Regions from separate parts of the Homo sapiens genome. Here region 2 is linked to region 1. The links come from fine-mapping of genetic effects on gene expression. Tissue or cell type: whole blood. Region 1 holds a variant in brackets; the other region holds the start of a gene. Each region is shown on its reference strand, or each on the opposite one. Region 1 overlaps CARINH (colitis associated IRF1 antisense regulator of intestinal homeostasis). Region 2 holds the start of LAG3 (lymphocyte activating 3).

Region 1 (3,016 bases):
AGGCCTCAGAGCCAAGAGAAAAGGGCGATGTGTCTGTGGCTGGATTTGGAGGTAAATGAACGTGCTGTCCCTCTCTAATTGGTGTGCACGAACATGAACTTCAGTCACTTGCGTGGCTATGGCCTCTTTCTTCATCTCTCCCTGCCAGTGAAGCTGGTGGTGCCCTGGCTCCCAAGCCAGGTGGCAAAGCTGGGGAAGGAGGCTGTAGTTGGGCCCAAATATGGGGGTCTGGGGGCACCTCCACAGGTTGTGACCACTGCAGCATGCTCTGGGGCCAGGCCTATGGCAGTGGAGGCAGGACAGCCCCCAGGACCACAGAGCCCCCATAGTGGAGGGAGCCACTACTTGGGCGGCTCAGCTCATTCCTGCTGACTTGCTGCTGTACAGGGCAGAGGGGTGCCTGAGACAAAGAGGAGACACACTTCTCCCACGAGAAATAAAGCAAGCAGCTGTTCCTCTCTTGGGCCCAGCAGGGGTCAGAGGCTGTGGGACCTTCACTCCTTCCCTCTCAGTGGAGAGGGCAGATCTGCTCTTTGGGGTGTGAGGGCACAGCCTCCTGACAAGCTGGAGAAGCAGGATTTAAGAGCTAGAATCAACGGAGAATGTGAGGCCCAGCATCAGGTTCAAGAAGCAAGGGGATCAAGGTTGGGGGGGAGGCAGGGAGCCTGAGCCTGGCGCAGCCCAGACCAACAGACTGAGGAGTCCAGAGAGCCAACATGCTCACTCGGCCATCGCTAAGATGTGTAGTGTGTGAGAAGGTGTGAGAGGTACTCGCGTTTCTCTCTCCAACCCCTTCCAACATATTATTGGGTCGTGGGTGCCATGTTTTTAGTAGACACATAAAATAAATGAGTATTTTCAGAGAAGTGCAACCCTGGAGGTGCAGGGGAGTGAACTCAGCCATGAGAAATCATTCAAAGGATTGACCTATGGAACAGGGATAGACTTGCTCTCCATGGCTCCAGCAGGGAAGCAGCAGAGAGGGGAACCTTTCCTGAAAGTCCAGTGTGACATCTGAAGACACACACACACACACACACACACTTTTTTGAGAGAGAGAACGAGAATGAAAAGATACACACTGATCTTTCAACAGTCGTTGTCTCTACCTGGTGATTGCGAATGATTTTAATTTTTTTCCTCTTGTGCTTACAGTATTTTCTAAAATCTCTAAAATACACCCAAATTACTTTCTTGTTATGGCAAAATAGACATAAAATGTCTACATCCATTTTAACCATTTTTAAGTGCAGAGTTCCATAGTATGAAGTACATTCTCACTGTTGTGCAGCCATCACCACCATCCATCTCCAGAACTTTTTCATCACCCTCAACATAAACTCTGCATCCACTAAGCAGTATCTCCCTGTTCTTCCTCCTTCCAGCCCCTGGCAACCATCCTTCTACTTTCTGTCTCTATGAATTTCACTATTCTAGGTACCTCATATAAGTGGGATCATCTGGTATTTTTCCTTCTGTGTCTGGCTTATTTCACTTAGCATAATGTTTTTAAGGTTCATCTATGTTATAACATGTACCAGAATTTCATTCCTTTTTAAAGCTGAATTATGTTCCATTGTAC[A/G]TATTCACCATATTTTGTTTATCCACTCCTCTTGTCATGGACATCTGGGTTGTTTCCACCTTTTGGCTATTGTGAATAATACTGCTACAAACACTGGTGTACAAATATCACTTTGAGTCCCTGCTTTCAATTCTTTTGGGTATATTCCTAGAAGTGGAACTGCGGGATCATATGATAACTAAGTTTTTGAGGAACCACCACATTGTTTTCAACAAAGGCTGCATGATTTTACGTTCCCAATAGCAATGCACAAGGGTATCTATTTCTTCACATCCTTGCCAACACTTATTTTCAGGTTGTTTTTGTTGTTTTAAAATAGCCATCCTAACAGATGTGAAGTGGTATCTTACTTATTATGGTTTTCATTTGCATTTCCCTAATCTAAATTACGTTTTAAAATCCAATCCTCTCTGAATTGAACCCTTTGTTCTTTATTTCTCAATAAAATGGACCTTGCCCCCTTTTTTTCCTTCTTTGTACCTATGCTCTGCATTTTAAAAAATTGTGGCAAAATACATATAACTTAAAACTTTACCATCTTAACCATTTTCAAGTGTAGAGTTCAGTATTAAGTATATTCACATTGTTGTGCCCTAACCCAAATATAGTATATAATGGCAAAAAGAAACAAAAGGCTCTCTAAAGAAAAAGAAAGCCGTGAATTCTTGGACCCCAGAGATGTTCACAAACAGATTGGATCAATCTCAGCAGGGACTTTCATTCATCTTCTGAGCATCTCTGCTGGGCTGGGCTCTGTGCCAGGCAGGGGTCTCCGTGGTGAGTGTGGCCTGGACTCTGCCCTTGGGGTTCAGCCTCTGTGGGGAACAGTTATACCCAAGGGCTGCTGTGGGCACAGAGGGACACCCTGTTGTGTGGGTGCGGCATTGGGAAGGGGCATAAGTGAGGTGGCACATGAGTTCAGGTGGGAAGGATGAGCAGACATGTACATGTGCAGAGAAGGGAACTGGCGTGTGTGGCTGGGCTGTGGCAGCACACCTCACAACCACCATTACAGGAGCATCTATTAATCATTTATGTCTGTCTCTCTACTTGATTATAAGCTGCATGAGAGCAGGGCTGATGGTTTTGTTCACTGCTGCATTGCTGCCATGCCCAGCACAGGCAAGTGTAAAAGAAACACTTGCTGAATAAATGAGTGGTTGATGACGAGGAAAAAGGAGACATTTCTTTCCAGAATCTTGGCTGTAAGCAGCAGACAGCATGGCTGTACTCCACGGGGAAGGCAGGATGGCAGGAAGCATTATACAGGTGATGGAGACAGGAGCACAGCAGGAGCCAGTGGAGAAGAAGAGTTTGAAGATTCCCTGGTTGAGAGAATGGAAGGGCGTAATTGCTGGGGAGAGGTCCCTGAAGAAAGGGGAGAGGCTGGGATGCAGGCTCAGTGGAAGGAGAGGAGTCTCCTTATGAGACTCA
Region 2 (2,500 bases), not on the chromosome of region 1:
TCGCCGGCGTCCGCGCGCCGGGCTGGGCGCAGCCATAGCGAGAAGTCCCCGCGCTGCCGGCCGCGCTCATCCAGCTGGACGCGGGGCTGCAGGGGCAGCCTCCCGCTGCGCAGGCCTCCGGGACCCACGCTCAGCACCGTGTAGCGGCGGGGCCTGGGCCCCCAGGAGGAGGGCGCCGCCGGGTGAGGGCCGGGGGCCAGGGGATGGCCGGGGGCGGCAGCGGGCGGGCCACTGGGCGGGAAAGAGAATGGAGTTGAGAAGCTCCAGGGGTAGGAAGCCCGGGAGGATGCAGGCAGCCACCCGTTGAGGATGAGAAAGCCCGCCCCAAGAGTTCTCTTGACCACCAACCGTCCCCTCACGCCCGACCCCTCTGTTGGACTGGCCGCATCCACTTCTGGAGAGAAGGGATGCTGGCGTGAGGGTCGCTGATTGCAGAGCAAGGGCAGGAACGGTGCAAGCGAGGGCAGGGAGACTGGGTCACTGGCTTCAGAGGGAGTGACACCTCAGGGCAGGGGACAGAGGACCGGCACGGGTGTGGGGTTGAGTGCTGGATTCGGAGGTCCTGTTGCCCAAGTTTGGGGTGCATACCTGTCTGGCTGATGCTGCCAAGTGACCCCTGCTCTTCGCAGAAGGCTGAGATCCTGGAGGGGGATTGTGGGGCTGCAGGGGAGCTGGGCAGGAGCCCCCTCCTGGGCCCACACCACCGGGACCTCAGCCCCTGGCTGGAGAGGCTTCACTAGGTGAGCAAAAGAGAGGCCAAGGGGAGGGGGCGTGAGCCGAGAGGCAGGGGTAGAGAAGGAGCCTGGGTGTTTCCCGAGGGAGAAACAGGGTGCAGGAAGAACTTGGGTTTCTGTTTCTTCTCTGCCCAGAGAGGCTTTCGGGGTGGAAGGACTGCCCAAAAAAGGGATTAGAAGAATCCACAGAGCTAAGGACCTCAGGACCTTTGTGGCCACAGAGATCCCTGCTGGTCCCCTCCTGTGGGGCTGGAGGTCAACCCTCCCGCCATCCCCGTTTTACCTGGAGCCACCCAAAGCGGCTGCAGAAACAGCAAGCCCAGGAACTGAGCCTCCCACATCTCTCCTATGGTCTGGGCAGCGCTGAGCCCTCCAAAAGGAGGTCAGAAAAGGAAAGGGGGCAGTGGTGGGGGGTGGGGGGTAAAGGAGAAGTTCTGCAGAGAGGGAGGTGGAGGAAGGGGTTCTAGAAGAAGGGAGACCAGGAGAGGGCCTTGGAGAGAGGGTGGGGAGGGATGACCAGAGGCCGGAATCCAGAGGAAAGCTGGAAAGCTGGGCAGATCAGGCAGCCTGAGGAGGTGGGGGCGGGGGTGTCCCAGGGAACAGAGCAGGGCCGTGGCGGAGAGCAGACAGAGCAAAGTGGCCGTCGTGGCTGGGATGCCGTTCTGCTGGTCTCTGGGCCTTCACCCCTGTGCCCGGCCTTCCCTCCACCTTCCCCACTTCCCCTCCTCCCGGCCCGCCCCCCGCACCCCAGGGCTTACGGTTTCGCTTCGCAGTGGAAAGTCTGAGGGGGTTGATTCCCAGCAGCAGCACCCTCCACCTCTCCACCTCTGTGGTGGCGCTCCCCTTGTTTACTTCCTCAGTCCTGGGTCTCCCCACCTCCCCCTCCTCGCCCCTGCCCCACCCTCCAGACTGCTCCCTCTCCCAGGGACCTTCTGCCTCCACGAACCATTTCTGCCTGGAACTGCCCCCTTGCCCATCTCTAAGCTGCCTCCTCAGTCCCAATATTCACACCTCCTTCTTGGCAAGCTCTTTCCTTGTTGCTCAATCTCCTTCCTCGTTCCCTTAACCTCCCAGAACTTCGTGACCCCTTTAGACCTGCCTTTCCACCCATCAGTACAATGTCCCTGGGAACATGGTGGACAGGAAGCCTTACTGCACCCCAAAAAATGGTAGGTCTGAGGCTAGGCATGCCAGCTTTGTGGGGCATGGAGAATAACTACATTGTATTGAGGCTTCATTACGTGCTAAGCACTGTATTGGACACTTTACTTATAGTAATTCATGAAATCTAATGCTTTTCCCCATTGTACAGATGAGGAAACTGAGCTTCAAAGAAATTGTACAATTTGCCAAGGTTAGGGAGCGTGAAGATAAAAGCTGTGAGTGTACCTGTGTGCGTGACAGTGTGTAGTCCTGACCTTGGATGAGTTACGGGCGTCTCCTGGGAGAAATGATGCTGTTGATGAGTCAACACCCCTCCCCACTCCAACTCAGGTCCCCATGCCCTCAGAAGCATCCTCCAGTCCAGAGGTTCCGAACTAAGAGGAGAAGGCAAGGGCCATGCGGAGATGGAGAAATGCAGAAATCTTAGAAATCTCCTAACAGAGATCAAACTCAGGGGAAACAGAGGCAGTGGGACTAGGGAAGGCCCAAGACTGACAAGAGTCATACAACTCCCGCTCCCCAGCCCAGCCCAGGGAGAGTTGGAGGGCAGGTGACGAAACATACAGCCGACCTGGGGATGACACGAGACCCAGGATTTCCCT

Evidence for each region. PIP is the estimated chance that this variant, and not a neighbour inherited with it, causes the effect.
Region 2: LAG3 starts here. The variant in region 1 is fine-mapped to the expression of LAG3 in whole blood (TOPMed, PIP 0.98).

The regions. Positions count from the first base shown.
Region 1 is chr5:132,460,453-132,463,468 of GRCh38, reverse strand. The region is part of intron 3 of CARINH (colitis associated IRF1 antisense regulator of intestinal homeostasis); the gene reads right to left. Among named protein-coding and RNA genes, the nearest start is that of IRF1, 29 kb to the left of the region's middle. The variant A/G (reference allele first, on the strand shown) is at 1,583.
Region 2 is chr12:6,771,428-6,773,927 of GRCh38, reverse strand. It overlaps LAG3 (lymphocyte activating 3), which reads right to left and starts at 1,408. Exons shown (of 8, transcript NM_002286.6): 1 at 1,018-1,408; 2 at 589-736; 3 at 1-231. The coding sequence starts at 1,075. RefSeq lists a silencer at 1-148.